Homo sapiens: one gene and its partners. The protein of the gene in region 2 interacts with the protein of the main gene of each other region in a pairwise test. Each region holds a gene or a part of one and is shown on either strand. Other genes may lie near its edges.

Region 1 (7,901 bases), on a different chromosome or scaffold from region 2:
ATTTCTAGTACCTCAGCCCACCTTAATACATTAGATTTTTTTAGTACTAAGTAACATAAAAGCCTTAGTGAAACAGTACTGTTGTCATTTATATTAAAACTTTTCATCTGGCAATGTAGTTGTAAATTGTACAAAAAACAGCAACAAAGGGCCTAAACCTTATACCAAATATAGTCCCAACCTGGTTTATAATGTTATATATTAAAATTTTTCCTTGAGCCAAAATTTATACTTAAAAGCTAGGAAGCAATTTATGTTTGAATTTATTGACAGGAGATTACCTACTAATTGTATAGCAGTGTAACCTGTATCTCTTATAAGAGTTAAAATACTAATATTACCTCTTAAAATGATACTATAAATGCAAATAATACTATAAATGACCATGCTACATCTGGATACCAGGAACAACTGCTAATGTAAGAGGTCAAAACATGCAATTTGTTGAAGTGTTCAAAATGATAAAAAGAAATATGTGATTAGTAAAAAAATTAAAAAAGACTGATGTGGGTTGAGAAGAACTGCAATAGGAATAAAGTGGTTCAGGATGATACAGATGGGAATATTTAAAGATAATATAGCTTTCTAGATGATAACTATAATAACAGCCAACATTTATTGAGCTCTTTCTGTATGCTAAGTGCTTTGTATATGTTATTTCATTTAATCTTCACAATCCCATGCGTGAATACTGTTATCCCCATTTCATTGACCAAATCAATGCTTAGTTACTTGCCTAAAGTCATATTGCTAAATCACAAGGACATAGTAGATCTAGATTTAAGCTTTCTATATAATACCTCTCACATTTAATTATAGGTTTAAGTGTTTATATTTTATCTTAAATATATGTTTTATTTTCAGCAGAAACTATATCTTTAAAAGATTAGAATGTCAGAAACAGAGTCAGAAAGGGAACCAGTAAAAGCTTATTAACATTTGATTGAGATTATTGTCACATCAAAAGACCAAAAAGAGTCTTATACAGTCCTTTAAAATTATGAGTTCTCAATGAAATGTTGACTTTATTGTTATTACTATAGCAAAGCATAGGCAAGTGTAGGCATTTTGAAATTGTGTGATCTAAGAACAGACCAGAATCTTATGTAAGCTGGTAATTTGGATCTGTAACAGTACTGATTAGGTTGGTGGAGTTTGGATGTATCTGATTCTTGAAATTGTGAAATTGCATGAGGGAGGAGAACCCGGAAAGTATGTCCTGAAAGCCAAAGGAGAGAATTTTAAGAGGACATCTTAGCAACCTCTTATCGAAAAAGAAATATAAGGAATTGGTACCCAACAGTGTCAGATGCTTCTGAAAGATTAAAGAGGATTGGAACTGAGAACCACCATTAGATTGTAGTGATTTGGGCAGTGGAAACCTTCGAGAGAAGAGTTTCACTATAGTTGAGGGATTAGAGGCCAGAAGTAGAATATTATACCTGAAAGAAATTTTAAATAGTCATCTAGATATCATTTTTATAGATAAAATATTTGAGTTTCAGAGAGATTAAATAATTTAAACTAAGTCGGTATCTCTAGACTGGTGATGATTTTGCCACCCAAGGGGCATTTGGCAATGTCTGGAGACATTTTTTATTGTCGCACCTGGGGAAGGGTGTGCTATTATTTAATAGCATCTAGTGGGTAGATGCTGTAAAATGTCCTGCAATATACAACAGTCTCCTGCCCCCACATACACACCCCAGAGAATTATCTGACCCAAAATGTCCATAATTCCAAGGCTGAGAAACCCCCGCCTAGGATTAGCACCCAACTGATTCTAAATCTAGTCTACTTGTAAGGAAGTAGAAATCGTGGATATAGACTATTCTTCAGTAGTGAGTAAGAAAGGGTGGCAGCTTCAAGACAGGGGTTTTTTGAAGTGTCTCTTTGAAGAAGCAAGCCTTGAGCATACCTCTAAGTCAAAGGAAGAAACCAGTATACAGTGAAAGACATTAAGGGTAAAAGTTACAGTACAACTGAAGAGGCTAAGCCTGGAGACAGAATCAACCATTAGGTAGTAGGCAGCCGTCTCTTGCTTTTCTTATATCAGGTTAAATTATTTTACTCCAAGATGTAATGAAGAAGGCCTATGTTAAAAATTGTCAGAGTAAATACATTTCTGAAATTAGAGAGTTTGACTAAAAAACTTGTCTTCTAAAACAAATAATTTAATGAAGTTATAAAGTTGATGTACAGCATCTACTTCATACAAACGCTAAAGAAAGTTAATCTTGTATAGTATTAAGTGCACGGACTGCCCTAGATTCAATTCCAAGCCTTTTCTCCCACTACTTATATGACCTTGAACAGATTTCTGAATCTCTCAGTGCCTTTTCTTCATCTATAAAACTGGGGTTAAATAAAGATATACTCATGTAAAGACTAAGGACAATGCCTGGGTTATAGTAAGTATTCAGTAAATACTTACTATTTAGTTATTAGCTATTTAGCATCAGCTATTAAATAGAAGTTCTATGCAGTAGTGGTTTATATTAATAATCCAGTGATGGCTTTGCCTGCAGAAGGTAGAGGTAGTTGAGTAGTTGAGATATTCTGTCTAACAAATAGCACCTTTTTTTGGGGTGGAGGTGGTCATTTGATTACATGACCTTCGGCCCCTCTAGTAAAGAGGTATGGTTGACTTACAATGCAACCTTTAGGGGAAAAGTCAGGAAGACTCGTTAAAATTATCTTTGTTTATAATATCAGGTTCTGCTTATTGCACATATTTTGTATTAAATACATGCTTTATGTAATTCAGATAAGTACATACCCAGCTTCCTCTTGAATATAATGTATATAGCTGTAAATGTCTGAAGTATGTAATATCAAGTATGTAATAGTATAGAACATATGTGAATTTGTACCTGATAAAGTATATCTTTGTCTCAACAAACTTAGACTATATCCACAGTGAAAAAAATTAAAATCACTTTTATCTTTCTATTATCAGCTCTAATAATGGACTTTAAGCAAAACTCTTCTGATACTAGCTTTCTCTGCTCATAAACCTCAGGTAAGTTTTCTTTGTGTATGTCTTCTTTTCAGATCAACAGAAACATTTAAAAAAGAAGATGATCTTGACAGTCTTATTAATGAAATACTTGAAGAGCCCAACTTGGACAAAAAACCCTCTGTAAGTCAAGTGTTATAAATATGTAGTAATTCTGTCATTATTTCAAGACATGTTTAGAATAGTCTTAAAGATGACACAAGTAGCTACCCATTATCTTTTGAATTCTGAGAAATACAATTACTTAAAGAAATTATTACACTTAAAGAGCAGTAGAAGCAGTAAAATATCAGAAACTCTCAGTATGTGTTTCCCTGTGCATTTCTCAGTAAGAATAACAAATTAGAAAAGCTGTTAGCATAGAAGTCAACTCACACATCAAGCTGGTCACTTGTATTTATTTGTAGTATCTAAGGACACTTTTCTAAAAGGCCAAAAACAAACAGCTTTCATTGTAGGAATGTGCTTAGCACCTCACATGCAATGCCATTGCTCTTATCCCATGAAGCAATGACTAAATTGTTAATATTTCAGTTTTTTAAATGTTTGTATGTCTATTTTAGCTGCATAAAAAGTTCAGAAAGTAATATAACAGCAACCTATATACTGAACATACCATGACAGCCACCCATATTAAACATATATTAATGTTTTGCCACATTTGCTTTACTGGACCTTTTTTTTTAAAAAGAAGTACAAATTAAAGATATAGTTTAAGACCTCTCTAAATCCTATTCTATTGCCTTCCTTCCCAAAGATAACCATTTATCCTTTCCATCCATACATTTATACTTTCATTACATATGTACATAACCATAAACAATTCTAACTGTGTACAGTAGTCCATTGTATAACTCTGCCACAGTTTATCCACTTCCCTGATGATGGACATTTAGATTGTGCTCAGTTGTTTGCTATTACAAATAGTGCTTCATCAGATACCTTTTTTTTAATCGGAGAAAAGGCATACAAATTTTGACATGTACACAGGGAAAACCAGTGATTACGCCTTCATTAGATATCTTTACATGGCTTCTTTTACCCATATACGGAAGTTTCTCTAGGGTGTATAAAGCTAGAAGAGGAATTCCTAGGTCATAAGGTGTGCTCATCTTCAACTTTTCTACCCATTGCCAAATTGTTTTCCAAAGTGACTTTATCACTTAACATTTTTCATACTGGGCAGTATATGAGAATTTATGTATTTTAATTTTTATCAGTATGGTGTGTGTCAAGCATTATCTGTTAGATTTAAAAGAAAGATACAAAAATAGAAGTCTAATTTACAAAGATCACAAAAAAATTTAAGAAATAACTATAGTACCAGGGTTTTGTTTTTTAAAGGATAGGGAAGATAAAAGCAAAACAGTGGACTGAAAATACCTAGGTAATGGTTGTGGTAAGAATATGGATAGGGACCACTTACATTTTTGTCACCCAGACTAAAAATCAAGTGACTAGTATAGATTTTAGAAAATTAAACTTTTTCAATTCACCTGAAGTAAATTAATAAGCACATGCCAAGTTGAATAATATGTAAACACAATAGCAATATTAAATACAGTCATTCCTTGGTATACTCAAGGGATTGGTTCCAGGACCCCCACATATACCAAAATCCATACATACTCAAGTTCCACAGTCAGCCTTACAGAACCCACCTTATGAAAAGTTGGCCCTCTGTACGTGGGGTTTCGCATGCCACAAATACTGTATTTTTGATCCTTGTTTGGTTGGAAAAATTCCACATATAAGTGGACTTGTGCAGTTGAAACGCATGTTGTTCAAGGGTCACCTGTACCCTGCAAATAGAATACTTCCTAAATACTGAGTAAGTGCATAAGCACTGAATAGTAATGCCAATTAGTAGTACTAATTAATGGTAGAAAAAAATTACATCATTTTGTTGCTCTTCATTAATCATCTGAGCAATTCATTGTTTATTAAGTACCAATAGGGTGCATATCTGTATATGAGGCGCTATCTTTTCAGTTAAGGTGTTTCAGAAGAAGATAAGTACTTCTCTGGTTTGGCTTTAAGATATACTAATTTGAAATAAAAGTAGCTCTTATAATCATGAAGAAGTAAATTTTTAATCATGATCTTTTCCTTTTTTAGTTATGTATTATGTCCAGTTTTCCAACCTTCAAAGGAGACAGCAGGTCTAAGTAAAACATTTATTGGGAAAAAAAAACATGTATTAACAAAAGAAACATAGATAAACAGATAGTCTATGCCAACGTTGTCATTAGAGGCTATATTATGCCCTGACAATACTACTCCCTTACCGCACCTCCTGCTCTCCCATTCTGTCGCATTTCTGAACTGTTCCCAGACCCACACAAGAAAGCCCAGGAACCAACAACAAACCTCAGAGTGTGCCAGCTTAGAGTCATAAGCCTGAGTCTGGATGGCACATGAAACATGCTCCCCAAACAGAAAGATTCGTGCATATTATTATTTTTCAAACATGTACCAAAATTTTTTCCATTTCTGCTTAACATCAAATAAGAGTTGAGAGACATAGTAAAACAATATTTTCGCCTCTATTAAATTTCCTCACCCACTATGTAAAATGAAGGCATGTCTCTGCATAGTTTAAATTGCCTTTTCTCCATCTCACTTCCTCTCCTTGGCGGTGGTCCTAGTGTGTGGTTGGTTTATGTTGTTTGGTACCATATACCAGTTAACACTTAATAAATGCTTGCTAATGATGATGATACTATGTAACCATATAGGAACTACTGTATGGTTGTGACTAGGTAGTTCTACATTTTCCTTGCACATTTATTGGTTGATGCCATTCCATTTGATCAAAATTAATATTCCTGAAGTTACACAGGAGCTTGGTTAATTTTAATTCATATGACGCACATTCACAGCCTTTAAAAATGAGTCTGAGGTTTTTTTCCTCCTCAATTGAATTTTTCTAGAATGAAGTTTTAAATAGCAGGTCCTTCATATTAAATCATTGAACTGTAATATTAACTGAAGAGTTATAAAGTGACTCTAAATCTTAGCATGCTAATAATGGCAATATATCAGTTTCCTAGCCTAAAAGTTAGTAGAGTAATTTGCACATTCCTTAGGGAGTTCTACTTCCCTTTTGCCTTTAAAAGGTTTTGATCATTGTTTTTATTTCAGAAACTTAAAAATGATGCCATGAAAATTTGTATTTAAGTCATTTAGAAAATATTCTTGTTATAAGGAATATTAGTTTTCATGTTACAGTTTTCTAAGTTACTCATGGCCTTTTATTGTTTTGCTTTTTTAACAGAAATTAAAATCTAAATCTTCAGGTAACACATCTGTCAGAGCTTCCATTGAAGGCCTTGGTAAAAGGTAAGTTGAGATTGCTTTGGTGAATTATACACACTATTGAGCAAACACTATGAGCATAGTCTAGTAGATTTTGTTACCATTTAAACAGCAGTGACATTGAACAACAAAGCATTGGTTGGCCTTCAGGAGAAAGACCAATAGCAATATCTTCAGTGTTCTTATGGTCTGTGACCCCCTTTGTGTAAAGGAAATTAAATGGGGGATTATTGCTATTGTAAATAATTTTCTGCCATTTAAAAAAAGTGTGAACAGTTTCTCAAAATTAATGTTCTGTTATATTCTTCAGTATTTACTTTGTCCCTTACATTATTTGGCAAACACATTTTTCTTTTACTCATTTTAATTCCTTGAGTGTTCCTGAATGTACAGGTTATATCCAATAAAGCAGTGATCCTACAATAAATATCTCTTCTTTGAAATGGTTGGCTTGCTAGGGAAAATAGACAATTTGATTACAAGAACATAAAGTCAATAAAACCAAAAATTTTTTTAACATGGCCAAATTAACTTCTCCTATTTTTTGTTATAACTTCATATTTTTGCATCTGTTGAACACATCTAGTTGCAGTCCGGTGTACCTTGGTGGAAGCTCTATTCCATGTGGGATTGGAACAAATATTTCATGGAGGTAGGTTGTCAGAAATGTATTATACTTTCTTACTAGGTTTTTTCCAAATGGATGCCCCATTGTTAAAATGTAGTTATCATCTTCACATCAATCTGTTTTATAAGGAGAGGTATTTTTATTAGCTAATCTAAGAATTCTTTGTTTTTTATTCTTGGGAGATAGCTATTGAAAGCTGTGATGTTAGGTACATATTATTCATTTTATGCCCTTTTCTAAGCCCCACTTGAAATGCCTGGATCACTCCAGTCCCAGCTTTGTTTCCACAGGACACAGGAGAGTGAACTTCCTTCCAGGCAGTGGAAGCAAAGTGGCCATGCAGATACATGATGCCTTACCCACACTGCCTTGGCCAATTAGCATGCAAAGCTACAGGTCTGCATTGCCCAAAACATTCTCAAGCGTAGTTGCTTGATTTTACATGTTTACATATTTCAAAAACAAAAACCTTATGTTCTTTGTCTCTTCCCTGCCCTTCCTGCCTCCACTTTCTCACTCAGTACCTCTTTCTGGGCAGTCTTATAGTCATGATGCCACCTACCCCAAACCCATATTAGCCCCATAGTCCTAGCACATTCCATTGGCATTTTCATAATGTGGGCAAACAGTTTGGCTTTAAGCAAACCCTACTCTCCTGCTGCTTTTGGTTCTATTTTTGGCAGAGGTCTACTTACCTAACTTACTTTATTAAAATACTTTTATCTAATTATTTCTAAAACACTTATTTTCTGTTAATTTTTTAAGAAAGAATGGCCTAAGTTATATGATTGCATGTTGACCACATTTCTGGAGGGCTAACTGTTGTATAGTCAAGTGTCACCAACAAGGATACATTCTGAGAAATATGTCATTAGTCATAAGTCATTATGACTTCCTCATGTACAAACATCATAGAGTGTACTTACACAAACCTAG
Region 2 (7,901 bases):
AGACAGAACAAGATTCATCTAAGCGCGACCAGACCACGTAGGAAGCTTTAGATAAAGAAGGGAGGAATAGCAGGAACAAGAGAGAATAGAGTAAGAAAGGTGGTTAGTGGCAGAAACGGTAGATAAGAATTCTCAGTCCAGTCAATATTGAAGTCAACTTCATAGGGATGGTGGTGGGGACTGGAGCAGGGGAACCTTGTAACTCAAAATATAAAAATGTAAAAAATAAGGCAAATATATTAAAACATATTTGAGTAAAAAATGTTAATCCCCAAAGTATCAAAAGGTGTCTCCATGCTATTTCCTAGCTAAGTACCTCTATTACTAATTTCCACAAATTTCTATTTACTGACAATTCATTCTAGAGCAAAACAGAAAAGAGCAACAAGTCCAGACAAGACATGAACTTAACAGTACTGCTGAAAAGATCTGATATGTTCTCACAGGGAAATTAGTTCAATTGCTACTCCAAGGCAGGTGGTAATCATACTCCTTCAATGTCCCAAACCTATTTTTTCATTCTTTCTGATAAACAAAATTATTAATTTAAAAAAGAAATGCAAAAACAACCTGTAGAATACAAAACAAAATGACGTACTGGTTTTTAAATAATATACATAAACACACAAACTACCAGTATAGCAAAGATTACCCAAAGTACCTACATCAACCAGGAGATCTGGGTCTATGCTAAATTGTCTTCCTGATAGCATGGCCTGGAAGTCCTCTAAACTGCAGTCAATACTGTCAAGATAATCCAACAGCTCAACCCTAAGGAAAAAAAAATTTTTTTAATCAAATATTAGATATCCTTGTTTTTATGTTTAAAAATCACCATTACAACTTGGCTAGGCAAGATATTTCTAGCAGCTGCTGCATCCTTACCGGTTCTTAATCTTAAGAGATCTTATTCTAGAGTAGGAATTCTTGAAAATCTGGTTAACTGAAAATTCATAGCCTTTACAGAAAACTTTAGTATTTACAGAAAAACACACCCTGCAGAACAGTCTGATTTACCTTTTTCCTCTATACTATATAAAATGTTTAATCTCATTACTGATTATTACTATTAAGTTTTCTTTGTTATAAGTACCTTACTAGAAATTACATTATTCTGTAGTTTGGATACACAAATATATATAATCACAAACACTGTATGTACACTCAAAGGAAGTATATCATCAAAGGAATCTGAGAAACTACCAGGAAAATACCAAGACTATTCTTGGGATGATTAAATCCCATTCATTACAGAACTCAACACTGACCAAAACAGAGAAAGGTGGACTATGTGGGTTCATCATCTGAAAGGAAGATTACTCAAAGAGAAACAGAACATGTGAAGTGAACAAAGAAAGCAAATAATTTTAGACAACATCTAGATAAGCACTCACTTTCCCAAAAGATTGATGTTATCATTCAAAATGGAATCCATCATGGTCACTGGATCTTCTGAGGTCAGACTGGATGAGCCATTTAGCTGGACAGCACTAGACATGAGAGGGCTGCTGCCATCACTGCCTGAACTTAGGGATTCTCTGGCTGGTTCATTCTGCTCTCCACTCTGAATGACAGGTGCATACTCATCTTCATTGTCATCTTCAACGATGACAATATCAGGGTACTGGCTACAGCTAAATCAGCAATAAAAGAAGGAACCTATTACATTTTCAAATTTAATAAGTTCATACTATCCATTCATTCTAAATGGAAACTCTCTCCCCATACCACATACTGAAAGGCTTAAATTTCTTGAGCGAGCAGCTTAATCACAATATTGGTACTTCATAGTATAGAAGACCATAAAGATTGAATGAGAAGTGCTTAACTCCAAAATAAAAATTAAAAATCAATTAGTTTTCAGTATACCTCCTTTGAGAGGAAGAGGAGGTGAGGTTTTATCTGGTTGAATAATTTAGCTTAATTATCAAGTTTAATAATCCAAATGTGAGAAAGATTATTATTTTTCAAAGAACAAAGTAGTTTTGAATTTTACTCTGTAATAAGAAAAGTAATCAATATTTTCATACATTTTATCTCACAAACTCCTTACTTGGAGGGATCAGATATAACATCCTCATTAGTTTCTGGAATAACTGGGATATTTTCTTCATCTGCATTATCATCAGTAACATCATAAATAATGATGTCATCTGAAATCCTCTCCCTTGGCTTTAAACCTTCAGTCCTACTGTGTGGAACCTAAAAATTCAGAGAGAAAAATATATCTAAAAATCAAAATCATTGACTACCAAACAAGATATCATCTACAAAATAACTAGGCAACTACTATTTACTGAATCTCGGGGTATGCAAAACAGGTGTGTTCTCTGCTCTTACGGAACTTACATAATAATTGGTACTAGCAGCACCAATTCACAGAGGTATGAGGTATATTAACTGCATTCTACACTTTACTACTTCTTTTACTGTAAGGGACCCTGAAGATGACACCCCTAAAAATGTTTCTATGGAAAGATCTTCAAATTTTAAAGTATTTTTTATGCCTAAAGAGTAAAAAAGTCTTAGGACTTCACTAGAAACTTCAAGCACGACCAGACAGCCACCATGCTGATAGGGATATTGTTTCAGCTCAAGATGCTCTGTTTTGAAATGTGTTTTATTCTTATTCATTAAATACCTTCACTAAGAGAAAAAAACGCACTTCACCTCTCTCAGTTACATGTTAGCTTGGCTTTTTAGCAATGATTTTTTTTTAAACTTAAGCTACAGATATATTCAGGCTACAGCTGTATTAATCAAACTAAGTTCAATCCTGTAAAGCAAACTAAAGTCATTATTAAAATGCAAAAAACTATAAATTCCAATACTAGATAATAAAGAGGCAAAGGATGTGAAGTACTTTAAAATATATAAACCCAGTTAAAAATATAAAAATCTTCATCCACTTACATGAGCCTTCAATCCTAAAAACAAAATAGGTATGCTTGATTATTTTCTAACAGTAGAGGGAAAAGAAATCAGATGTGAGGTTAAGTTTGATTGTCCAAGAACAAAAATCTTATTACTTTAATAATAAATCTAAAGAACTATTTTGAATTCTGAAGTTTGAAAGTAGTAACAAAAAGATAATAAAAAAGATCTGGACTTTGGACTGGACTAATTTGCCACTGGATAGAAATCTGACAAATTATCCAGAAAGCCTGTGACAAAATGAAGGTAAAAATTTAAATTGCTGGAGTAAAAAGCATTCTAGTTGGTGAACATTAATAAAAAAAAGTTGAAAATAGAATAACCAATGTAAGAATATATAATCACATTAAATTATAATAATTACATTTTCAAAATATTCAATTATTATATAATATTGAAATGAGTAAGCCAGGTGCAGTGGCTCATGCCTGTAATCCCAAAACTTTGGGAGGCTGAGGCAGGCAGATGGCTTGAGTCTGGGAGTTCGAGACCAGCAAAGGTGACATGATGAAAATCCATCACTACAAAATATACAAAAATTATCCAAGTGTGGTGGCACACACCTATAGTCCCAGCTACTCAGGAGACTGAGGCAGGAGAATTGCCTGGGCCCAGGAGGTGGAGGCTGCAGTGAGCCAAGATCATACCACTGCACTCCAGGCTGGGTGACAGAGTGAAATCCCATCTCAAAAAAAAAAAAAAAAAAAAAAAAAAAAAGAAATGAATAAACTAAATCGCTATGTTTAATAAATCTCAAAAGCAACATCAAGTTAAAAAAAAGCCACACTATAAAATGATATGCACAAAATGATATTATTTATATGAAGTTTAGATATATGCAAAATAATACCAAGTACTGCTCCTGGATTCACATATACAAAATGGCCATGAGAATGATAGATACTAATTCAAGATAGTGATTACCTCTAGGGTAAGCGAGGAAGAGTAAAGAGGGGAGACAAGAGACGGGGAGAGAGAAAAACTTAGAAACAGGCAACTGGAACAACTAGATTTGTGATGATTTATTTCTTACAATAATCTAAAGCAAATAATAAAAAATGTCACAATTTAACAAAGCTGTGGGATGAACACTTGAATTGTTATTCACCACACTTCTTTGAATGCATGAAACACTGCCATAATAAAATTTAGTCTGAGACAATAAATATAAAATAGACCCTAACTAAAAAATTACTTTATGATGATGATTATCAGTTGGTTCTTTGACTATGTGCTGAAACAGGTTCTTCTTTTGGGCTCCATTAGTGTTTAGAAGTAGAGGCCTGAAAACCAGAAGAATATGCAGTTCAGTGAAGCAAACATACAATGAATTTAAACTCCCTCTATTAACTTACCCAAACACACACACATGCACACTCACTTAATAATGAATAAAAAATTTCAGTAACAATAAATAAACTTAAAAATGATTACATCTTAGGAACAGAAACTGCTGGATGAGAATATCTAGGACTTTCAGTTCTCCACTTTTCTACACTCTTTTTGTTATAATAAGCTATTCTCTCCAGTTATACTTCATTGCTTACCGAACCACACAACTCTATGAACTGTATTTATATAGAAAAAAATAGATAATATCATAAGAACTAATTAGTGGAAGTAGTTAAGGCCATAAAGCTCTGATCATAATCAAGTTTTTCCCAAATCTTAGTGTTACAGATCATTTTTTCCTTCCAACTATTCCTTTTGTCCATTATTCTTCTAATGTTTTAGCTGTGACAATAGTAGCTACTGACATTTACAGGTATCACAACCCATGGCTGAGATACAGATTTAAAAAGACTATGAGTGGCTTAAACTAAGAGAGGTCAAGTAAAACAAATTTTCATTTTTTTTTTAACATATGGCCTCTTTTTAAAAATTTCCTTCACTCAGGCCTTCTAATGCTACTTTAATAATGTGAATGAAAAGTGAATATTTTGTATTAACTGTATGTATGTCTATAAAGTGACCATTTAGGCTACCCTTATCTCTCACAAACATCAGCAGAATGATAAAACTAAAAAATAATACTACTCTAGAGATTTTAAGAGTATAATTTAACAAAGGAGAATTGTTCTTTTTGGACAACAAGCACATACTCAGCAAGTGTAGGCTACTCATGGTTAAACACTAAAAAGTGTGACTGCCTATATACAGGACATAATACTTTATCATAAAAACTTACCTTTTACGTTTTAAACTCACAAGTTGGTTATTTTGAACCAATGTAACAATAAACTGGACAATCTGAAAAAAATATAAACAAAAATTATTTCATTATACTGTTAATTCTTTTGTCTCTATTACCAAGTCTTATAAAACAAATTCATATAATAATTTGTCCTCTAAGTCTCATAATTTCTCACATATTAACACTTGAAATCCAGACGCACCGTAGAACCACCGTCTAAAGAAACATACCAGCTTCCAGGCAGTTTATTTGTTTTGGTGATAAGTACCAAACTTGCCTGGCTATAGATCCCAACTTTTTTACTTCAAGTACTTTGAAGATTACACTACGGTGCAAAAGAGAAAACTGGTGTTTGATAGGCAACATTTTTCTTATACCAGGTAACAGAGGCAAAATAAACCGTCAGTTCCTTCAGAATAATCATGAAATTTTCGAGTTAGAAAAAGGTGATGGGCCAGGCGTGGTGGCTCATGCCTGTAATCCCAACACTTTGGGAAGCCTAGGTAGGAGGATTGCTTCAGCCCAGGAGTCGGAGACCAGCCTGGGCAACATCGTGATGCTCCATTTCTAAACAAACAAACTCTGCTTGCAACCAAAGAAAAAAAAGAAAAAGATAAAAGTTTATTGTCTGATTCTATAAAGATTAATGTTGAGACCTATCTGTCAAAACTTCCTACTGACAAGGGAAGCTAATCTTTAATATTTAATTAAATTTAGAGAGAAAATTGTGAAGACACACAAACAAGCTTTCATATCTTATAGTAGTGTTTCTTAAAGTGTGGCCCATAATACCAGGAACACTAGCTTAGGAACTTTGGATATGTTAAATTCTCAATCCTACTACAGAACTGCTGAATCTGAAATTCGGATCATGGGATCCAGTATGTTTAGAAAACCCTTTAGTGTAGACTGGATACTGATGTGAGTATAAGAACTACTGGCTTAGAGTATGTCTTGAAATTACATTGCCAACTTCCTAAAGGTGCTATAAAAGGTGAGGATCATATGGTAAACTATAAAAAGTAGTATATCACTGAGAAGCTATGAATAAAAGCCAAAATTGATTGGAGCACTATTTAGACTCTGTGCAGAAAGTGTGCTTATAAGCTTTGTGAAGTTACATGATTAAATAGAGTATTATCAATTAAAAATATCTATTGTACAGGTTCTAACAGTGAGCATTTCCTTACAAAAAAGGCTACTAAATGGTCTGCCTTATAATCAATATCAATTTTTCAATGGAAAAAAATATAGACATTTTAACTGAAGAGGTTCATAGTATTAGAGTCTATGAAAAGGAGGGTAGACACTAAATTGCTTATTCAAGAGAAAATGTTAACAGCTAGTGAAAAGACAATATGTAAGCTTAAAGATATCTATGATACAATTCGACTTCAGTTTTTTTAATTAATAAATGTTATGGGAATATTCTAAAAACTTCAGGTTGAATTTATAAGAACATCAATCACTGGCTAAATTAAATTTATTCTACATCTCAGTTCTCTGTTGACACTTCTGGATCACATTACACAGGGATTTTTATCTGAAGAAGATAAGGCGTCTAACACTTACAGCATGTAACTTCTGTACCTGTTAAGTCCTATAACTGGACCATCACACATATTATTCTCAATTAATCCATGGCTGAGAGTAAATTCCAGGAGCAGAGTAAAAATTATTGGTTGTCGTCATGCATTATATAAACACCACTCACCAAAGCACAGAGATTCAAACTCAAATTTTAGCAGACAGAATGTTAGCATTCATGAAAAACTGAAATGTCACATAGCTATTTTATCAACTATTCTTGCTTTCAGGAAAAAAAAAATCTACACATTATAGAGTGTTGTAAGCTAATATATTACCAAAACACTGTTTCTGAAAAGTATTAACAGACTGTTTCCATAAAGTACAGGTTAAGGTACATCTATTGTTTTAAGTCAACTATTCTTAACCAGGCTGCACATTAGAGTTGCCTATGAAAGTTTTAAAAATACATGTACTTGGACTAAACACTTAGAACTGAATTCTACTACATTCAACCTTCACTTGCACACTTTAAAAAAAAAAAAAAACACAGTAAATCTATGTTGACTAGGCTACAGGCTGCAACTGCTACTCATCTCTGCTTTAAAGCCTTCTCCATTAGACCCTGATCCTGTCAGTCACAACCCTATTTTTAGTTCAAGGGCCTTCTAAGCAGGAGCAATCAGAAGCTCCCCCTCAAAAAACCTGTTGCTTAAACTCAGAGTCTAGTTTACTCATGAGCAAAAAATAGCTGCCTTAATTACTATGTTTCATCTCTTATTAGCAAATGAAAGCTGATATGCAAAGATTAAATCACAAGGACACAATGAAACGGAGGGATTCCAACTCCTCTATTAAATTTTCAGCTCAGATACTAAAATCTAAAATTCATTTTACAACACTATGTTAACTGCTTTTCTCCACAGACTAATAACAGCATACATTGAGAAATCATTTTCTGAACTCATAATTTGGTCAACTGATTTGAAAATATTTGTCATTTATCTTCTGAGACCTTAACTATGCCTTTTATAATAAAAACCAACAAAAAAAACCAGTAAGGCTATGTTTTCTAATTTTAAAAGAAATTGGTAGTGTATTCATTATGCTCATAAAAATAAAGTATTTCAAAATTGTTATATTAGGCAAAAGATCATTTACTAAAAGCTACTGAGACATTATCTGCGAGTATGGAATAACCATCTTTAGCTAGTGAGAAATTTTTTATTAAAAATGTGTAACACTT
Region 3 (8,018 bases), on a different chromosome or scaffold from region 2:
TGGCAGGCATGGCAGACATGGCAAGACAAAGCTCTTACCTCTCCAGTGAACCCGTGTACAGCTTCAGCCGGTGTGAGACTGAAGTTACCCAGGAAGAATCCAGCTTTCACTTGCCTTCTCATCCAATTCATCCCCTGGAGTCTCCTCTCTAGGTCCTAATTTCCAGTAGGTCATGGTATCCCAAGTTCCCACCTAATATTAGTAATTTACCTTTTTATGAATCAATTACTTCTCTATTTTAGTGTCATCCAGAGTTTTCTTCCAGGAAGCCAGGATTGAGTGTGGTCATTCAATTCTCTTCAGAATATTTTTCATGTCAGTAAAGTTCAACACATTCTTTATAACGTCTACAAAATAGCATAGATGCACCAAATAGCATATAGATGCACCATAATTTATAACAAATTATAGATTACATTTTTTAGTAGTTGCTCAAATTCCATGGAAGTATTTAGCTGCCTTTTCTTTGAGACCAAGGTTGGGGAAAAATGGATGCAATTTTTCAGAAGGGAGCAACAACAAGATGCATTGAAAAAGCAGACCAATGGAAAATATTTCTCAACTAGCTACCTTGCTTATGCTTTACACCTAGGGGATTAACAACTTAAAAAGAGGTTCTTATTAGGTTACTATATGTTACTGTGCATGTCTGTCTGCTACACTGGGGGGTTACCCATGAAAACATTGTTAAAGCAAGAACATTCTCAGATAAGAGGGGGCCTAGCTTTTCATTGGTTATCTATTTAATATAGAAATGCTTAATTGCAAGTGTGCTATAGTGTCACTTAGACTGAGGTGACTAGATCAGTAGAGTTCTCGGAGGCATCTAACAAATTTACCTTTGGAAACAAGGCCCAAGTATGCGTCTAAATGATAGCTAATGAACAATAATAATACTTTATAGATTGAATCACTTTAATGAGAGAATAGAACATGGTCAAGTGGAAGGTAACTGATTTTAGTTTAAGGACGAGTATGGAAATGATATAAGTGCCTTACGTTAGGTTTTAATGTTAACACGTGTGTCACTTTTTAATCTCTCCCAGTAATCCAATGAGATAGGTAATTGTCTCCGTTGCATATATGGAAAACCTGAATTTCAGAGAGGTTTAATGGTTTGTCTAATAAGTTTAGCTTCCAAGAGATAGTAGGGAATAGTGTGTAGTCTAAGGTTATATATTGTTATATGATTATATATTGCCAGGTTTTAAGCAATCGTCTAGCACTTACAGGCAAATCTCTCTTAGCCTCAGTTTATCTGTACAGGGAGAAAAGAGTTCTCACAGATTTTTTTCAGGAAAAATCTCATAAATATGAAATACCAAATACTTTATGGAAAGGACTTAATTCACAGGAAGCACTTAATATTAGCGAGTATTATATATTGTATCAGTGATTCCCAAGCTTTAGGATTCTGTGGCCAATAGACTTCAAAATGGGGGAGAGGAGATGGAATGGTCGGCTTCTAGCCAACTGAGGCTATTAAAAAAGAAAAAATAATTATCTAACGCCACGATCTTTATAAAACGACATTTTAAAATTCAAATTGGTAGTGAACAACGTAGTCTCAGAATGAAGGAGTGTTCTTTAAATTGAATAAATTTAGCTTCATAAAACACTCAGTATAATTCTTATTTTTTTTTTATTTTACCATGAACTAGGAATTGGATGTTCTATTAGTCTCCCTCCAGTTCTAAAATATTTTGACTCTAATATTCACAATTTTTCATAGTCCTCCCTGCTCCTACACTTTTCTCCATCTGACCTAGAAATGCTGGCTGACAGTTTGTAGTCTAAGTGGTTATTTACCTAATGAACTTGTGAATAATTGCTCTTAGAAATCATAGGAGTAGAGACTATATCAAATGAAATTTGACTGGATAAAACAGTAGGCAGTATAAGAAAAGTAGCAAAGACAGCAATATACACTCATTCATCTAACAAATATTTATAGTCTACTAATTGCCAACTACTGTACTAGATCCTACATATGATGAACCAAACACAAATGATCTATGCCCTTTGGACCTTAAAATTTGTTTTACTCCTATCTCCCAGGACTGGTAGGTTCTTAGAAGCTTCAAGATAAATATTACATATTCCTAGAGCTTTAATTTTAATTAAAGGAGGAGTGAGGGTGGGAGGATAATTAGGTAATTTATTTGGCAGTTTAAAATTTACATTGAAAAACATCAATGAATAGGAATAGCATGCAAAATTTACATGGCTTAAAAAATACAACATGTAATACTTTAAAAGCAATTTTACTCTTGTAAGAGTCAGTTTGGGCTATGGCTCCAGATTGGCATGCATAGTTTATTTTCCTCTGCTTCTCATTGGTGGTTCTTTACGTTTAGTTTGCATAAACATTGTTTGAAGAAATATTAAAATTACAGATTCCAGGGTCCTAGATACTCTGATTGAGTAGGGCTGTGAGGAAGCCCAGAACTGCTTTAGAAAAAGCTCTTGGGTGATTCCCATGTAGTGGTCTATAGCTCTTTCTTTGAGGGGACTTGCCTTAGGGATACTTCAGAAGTTTCATAAGGCAATAAATGTAAAAGGAATCTTCACAAAATGAAATATAGGAACATTTCTCTGTGAAAGAAACTCATTTTTTGCATACTATCCCTGCTGTCTCTCCTAATGTTGCCAAATTAACATACTTTTAAACTGCAGAGATTAATTTGAGATTAATACATTCAACAGGTCCATTTTAGAAAAAGTCCTTGAGAAATTCTTGACTGATACATTGCTAAAACATTGCTTTAAGAGGCTGCCCTAATTCTGATTTTTCAACTAATTTAGGATATCACAATTTAAAAACAAACAAACAAACATTTATGTAATGAATGGTATGGAATCTGGTTTGGAGTTGTGTTTACTTCTAAAAATAGAATTTCATGTATTGCCTTTGTATCTTCTAGAGATGTGAATGATCTCCAGCCAGAGACCACCAGTAACACACCTACAAGTGGACAAAGTTGTGTTTATTGACATTGTAACAAGGGAGAATGCTTGCCATGGGCACCTAATGTGAGGTGTCTCAGTAAGAGGATGTTAGAAACTACATAGGATTTGGGCCTGTCGTAGGTGATTTGGGGAAAGTTCAAGGAAGGATCTGGACTGGATGATGGTAGGAACTGGTGATAGTAGTGCATCTTAATTCTTATCTAAAACATAGGAATGGAGTGAAGCTAGAACTGATTGGTAAAGAAGTCATAATAGCTAGGATAGGGGCTATTTGAACAATATTCATGGTTTTCTATTATCAGACATGATTATGATTATGTTTTTGTTGATTCATTGTGGTCACAATGGCCTTGGCTGATGCTGTGCTGTGAAATTGTATACGTTTAACCAGGGAAAACCATGGTCCAGTTGTGAGTTTCAGGCCAGCTCCAGGCTTTCAGGGCCTGCTTTTCTCTTTTTCAAGGTTAATATAAAAAAGAAAAGTGCTATAGTATGTATGAGTAAGATCTACACACATCCGAAACATTCAACAGTGGCTGTGTGTGGACAAGGCTGAAAGCTCAATGTAGAGGAGTATACAAATATTACTATTCCTATTTAAAACAGCTCAGTAATTACTGTGTGAACTTGACAATAACATTAACAGCTTCCATTTTTTAAGTATCTACTGTATGCCATGTTATGTACTAGGTGCCTTGCATACATTCAACAGCTTTGCAAGGTGAACATATTTTGATCATCTCCACTTTACAGGTAAGTAGACAGACTATTATTTCCAGAACTGCCAAGTTACATTTATTAAATGGAAGAGCTGGTATATTAATGGGTTCAGCTCATTTTGAGCTCACTGTATTTCCCCTATACCAGGATGCCTTTCTATTCAGAACTTTGATGTCTAAAGTTACAGCAATGGAGATAAAATACATTATTGGCAGGATTGTTCAGAGACTCAAATGCTATCATACATCTATATATGATGTATGAAAGCACCTAGCACAATAACTGGCTCATGGTAGACAAATCATAACTAACTGTACTGTTTTCATAGCAGAGGTGCCTCTAAACGTGAGTACAGATAAGTTAACTATATTGAGATTGTGGAGTGACTCGACGATTTTAACCTCTTGGTCACAGAGAAATCAGGCTGAAGCATTTTACCTTTATAGAATCATAGTATTTTGAAGAACCAAGAAATTGTCAAGGTCTTCTTTTACAGATGAGAAAAATGAAGCTCGGAAAAGCAGTTAATTTGCCCAGGGTCACACATTTAATTATTGCCCGAGCTTGGCTAAGAAACCAGGTCTTCTGACTCCTAAGCCCTTGCCTTCTTCAGGCCACATAGCTGCTTCTTTTCATGATGTGTAGATTAGAAAAGTCAGTGTGCCCCGGGGCCCTTGATTGCACCTTGGTTTCCCTAACAAGGATATGGGATCCCTGCTGACATTTCAGACCTTAAGTTGCAGAGCTCTGCACTTGGATCTTCTTCCTTCTTGTTATATAATCTTACAGTTAAAAGTTTCTAGGAATATTTTTATTACGTGCAATTGGCAACTTCAGTATTTTTTAAAGGGTGTTGGTAGCATTATTTCCGGGAGCTACTTAGCGCTCCGGTTCGGTACCTCGTGGAGAAGACGGGGGAGGGGAGCAGCGAGATTTCCTTGCGGAGCAATATTCCTAGGGTACAGACCTCGTAGCCCGGGCCCGCGACTCCGCCCCGGGAGCGGGCAGGGGCGGGGCGAGCGCTCCAGCTGGCGGGAAGGAGGAAGGGCCGGGCGCGGCGCAGAGGCGGGCGCCTACCAGCCGGCAGCTCCGGAGCTGCCCGCGCCATGTCCGCGCACAATCGGGGCACCGAGCTCGGTAAGGGGCCCGCGGGGCTCCCCATCCCCTCTCCCTCGCGTTCAGCGCCGCCGGGACTAGCGCGGGGCCTGCTGCCGCCCAGTGCCCTGGCTGTGGGTCCCCGAGGGGTTTTCGCTGGGGCGGGAAGCAGTGGCGTCTGGTCAGCCCTCACCCCAAGTAAAGGCCGAACCCGGCACGTTCGCGCCGCTTGTCTTTGCACCTAAGCTTTTACTCTTGTATGCGGAAGGAGTAGGAAAGGGTTAGATTATTATCTTCCTGCCTTTTCGTTCACTCTAGCTCGCTGGTTGGAAAACCCAACAACCCAAAAAACAAAACCCAAAACAAACAACCCCCAAGCAGGTAAAAACAGATAAAAACCTTCTTTCTCCTCCTTTTAATAGAATACTTGTGTAATTTAATGCAGTATTTCCGTAGATAATTTTAACCGTAACCTTGAAGTGGCCGTGCTCGTGGAAAAGTTGTCAGCCGTCTGTGCTCAAAATGTAACACTGCAGATTCATGGGATTTTAGAGTTACAAAGATTTGTTAAAGTACCTGTATTATTTCCCAGTTTTCATCTTTTTTTATATTGTTCAAATACTGGCAAGAAACCTTAGTTCAGATTTCTTTTTTTTTTTTTTTTATTGATCATTCTTGGGTGTTTCTCGCAGAGGGGGATTTGGCAGGGTCATAGGACAGTAGTGGAGGGAAGGTCAGCTGATAAACAAGTGAACAAAGGTCTCTGGTTTTCCTAGGCAGAGGACCCTGCGGCCTTCCGCAGTGTTTGTGTCCCTGGGTACTTAAGATTAGGGAGTGGTGATGACTCTTAACGAGCATGCTGCCTTCAAGCATCTGTTTAACAAAGCACATCTTGCACCGCCCTTAATCCATTTAACCCTGAGTGGACACAGCACATGTTTCAGAGAGCACAGGGTTGGGGATAAGGTCACAGATCAACAGGATCCCAAGGCAGAAGAGAATTTTTCTTCAGATTTCTTAACATGTGAAAAATTTATAATTCAAACAGCAAAACCATGATCAAGAGAAGGTTTAAGCGTCTCGTTTAAGTATTATAGCTTGGATATCTGTGTATCCAGGATCTTTAACTTCTTACCTGTGTGACTTCGGACAAATTAATAACTTTGCGCTTAAGTTTCTTCATCTGTAAAATGGTTATTTTAGTGGTAGTTACCTTATAAGGCCGTTAGGAGATTAAATAGGATACATGTAAAGTAGTTTGGTATATTGTGGACACCTAGTAAGTCTTCAGTATAGATAGTATTAGTATATGGAGTTATGGTTTTAGGGGCTAATTTTGAGAAAATTGGCTGTAAATTATATGTAACACATACAGGTAGGTCCTTTTCGCCCTCCTTAAAAGTGACTGGTACTTAAACAGTCTGCACTTCCAAGAGGTGTTCTGGATTTTTTGTCGAATGGTAAGAGAGTAAATCTATCATTTTAAAGACAGTTGATTTACTAACCTGGTTGATTTTGTTTTAGTCACTGTCCTCTAGCTGATTATGTTTTAAACTCTAGTCCTATCTCTGGAACGTGGTCTTTAGTAATAACGGCATTATTTCTTAGATTGGAATATCCTTGAAGGTGGTGGATATGGGGCAGGTTTGGGGTGGTGTCTTACCTGGGTATTCCCAGGAATATGACCATGTGACTATGCATACATCAAGGATGTGCCCTAAATTTCCCAAAACTTAGACATTTTAAATTTTTCTTTCAAAAAACATAATTGAACCATTTTTAAATTTATTTATTTGCAGTAATTAGAATCAATCACTTCCATTCATTTGTTGAAAAGTAATAGACATAAATAATTGCCAGGTAGAACAATAGTAAATGTGGTTTTTATGCAGCTATCGAAATGATCATAGCTTTGTATTTATTATCTTATTTGTTAAAATCAGATTTTTTTCCTTCACGGGTATTAATCCTTAATCCAAACAGGTTTAAACTGAAATGCTAAAATAAGTTATTTGAATTAGGTACTAGGGAAAAAAATCTTTCAGTATTAATTTATGCAGTATATTAACTGATGATTTTTAAAATAGTTTTCTAATTGAAAGTCTTTTTAATAAACATCGTAACTAATTTCTAAAATAAATTAACATTTTTGCTTCCCTTTTCTTATTACAAAAGGAATTCATGGTTATTGTAAAAATTCTAGAAAATACAGTTAGCACAAAAATGTTGTAATATTATTACTAGTCCAATCACTGTTATTTATGATTTGGTGTATGTACTTCTAGTTCATGGACTTAAAAAAACATTGAGTTCCTTTGAGACTAAACCTGACCCTCATGATTAAAAAGTCTTTAAGGAAAACATTGGCATTTGGATGTATGAAAGATGTTTTCCAAATAGGGAATGTACCCTCTAGCTTTCATATTAGAGGATGGGGCCCAGCATTCTGAGTTTTAACAAATCCTGTGGGTAGTACTGAAGCATACCCAAGTTTGAGAACCAATGGCTTAATGATCTCCAAGGTACTATCAAGTTTTGTACCTAGACTATTATGCCCTATATAGTCTATTAAAATGTACAGATATTCTTCTATTTTATTAGATGCCACTTAACTATTGCCTAAAATGCAGGTGTCACGTGGGTAGTGATCTTTCTTTTGTTCACTGATGTGTCCCAAGTACCTAGAATAGTGTTTGGTACACAGAAGGCCCTCAAAAATGTCTTGAGGCTGGGCATGGTGGCTCATGCCTATAGTCCTGGCACTTTGGGAGGCTCAAGGCAGCCGGATCACTTGAGATCAGAAGTTGGAGACCAGCCTGGCCAACATGGCAAAACCCTATCTCTACTAAAAATACAAAAATTAGCTGGGCATAGTGGCGCATGCCTGTAGTCCCAGCTACTTGGGAAGCTGAGGTACGAGAATCGCTTGAACCCAGAGAGTGGAGGTTGCAGTGAGCTGGAATTGTGCCACTGCACTCCATTGGGCAACAGACTGGAGACAGACTGTGTCTCAAAAAAGATAAAAAAAAAAAAAAAAAAAGAAAAAGTCTGTTGAATGAAGGAATGAATTGAGAGCTGCTTCTTACTTGGGGGAACTGGGGAATCTACCTGGTCCCCGTGTATGGTTGCATGGACAGATGCTGTGAAGCTTGGCACCTTCTTCCTCTTTGTAAGTATTATTAAGATTCAGTTTTGTTACATCCGTCTTCAGAGCTATCTCAAGAAGCCTATAA

Evidence for each region.
Region 1: the proteins of HSF2 (region 2) and CFAP418 interact in a two-hybrid assay, tested with the Homo sapiens proteins (one study listed by IntAct).
Region 3: the proteins of HSF2 (region 2) and DERA interact in binary tests that used the Homo sapiens proteins (3 or more experiments, as listed by UniProt).

What each region holds. Positions count from the first base shown.
Region 1 is NC_000008.11:95,258,928-95,266,828, reverse strand, and holds part of CFAP418 (cilia- and flagella-associated protein 418), read left to right. Parts: intron 1-3,054; coding exon 3,055-3,142; intron 3,143-6,296; coding exon 6,297-6,361; intron 6,362-6,923; coding exon 6,924-6,989; intron 6,990-7,901. UniProt on the Homo sapiens protein: May be involved in photoreceptor outer segment disk morphogenesis.
Region 2 is NC_000006.12:122,416,451-122,424,351, reverse strand, and holds part of HSF2 (heat shock factor protein 2), read right to left. Parts: intron 5,185-7,901; coding exon 5,123-5,184; intron 4,218-5,122; coding exon 4,130-4,217; coding exon of another isoform or gene 4,118-4,129; exon of another isoform or gene 3,942-4,117; intron 2,203-3,941; coding exon 2,054-2,202; intron 1,635-2,053; coding exon 1,395-1,634; intron 772-1,394; coding exon 666-771; intron 1-665. UniProt on the Homo sapiens protein: DNA-binding protein that specifically binds heat shock promoter elements (HSE) and activates transcription. In higher eukaryotes, HSF is unable to bind to the HSE unless the cells are heat shocked.
Region 3 is NC_000012.12:15,906,588-15,914,605, forward strand, and holds the start of DERA (deoxyribose-phosphate aldolase), read left to right. Parts: upstream 1-4,744; 5' UTR 4,745-4,796; coding exon 4,797-4,827; exon of another isoform or gene 4,828-8,018. UniProt on the Homo sapiens protein: Catalyzes a reversible aldol reaction between acetaldehyde and D-glyceraldehyde 3-phosphate to generate 2-deoxy-D-ribose 5-phosphate. Participates in stress granule (SG) assembly.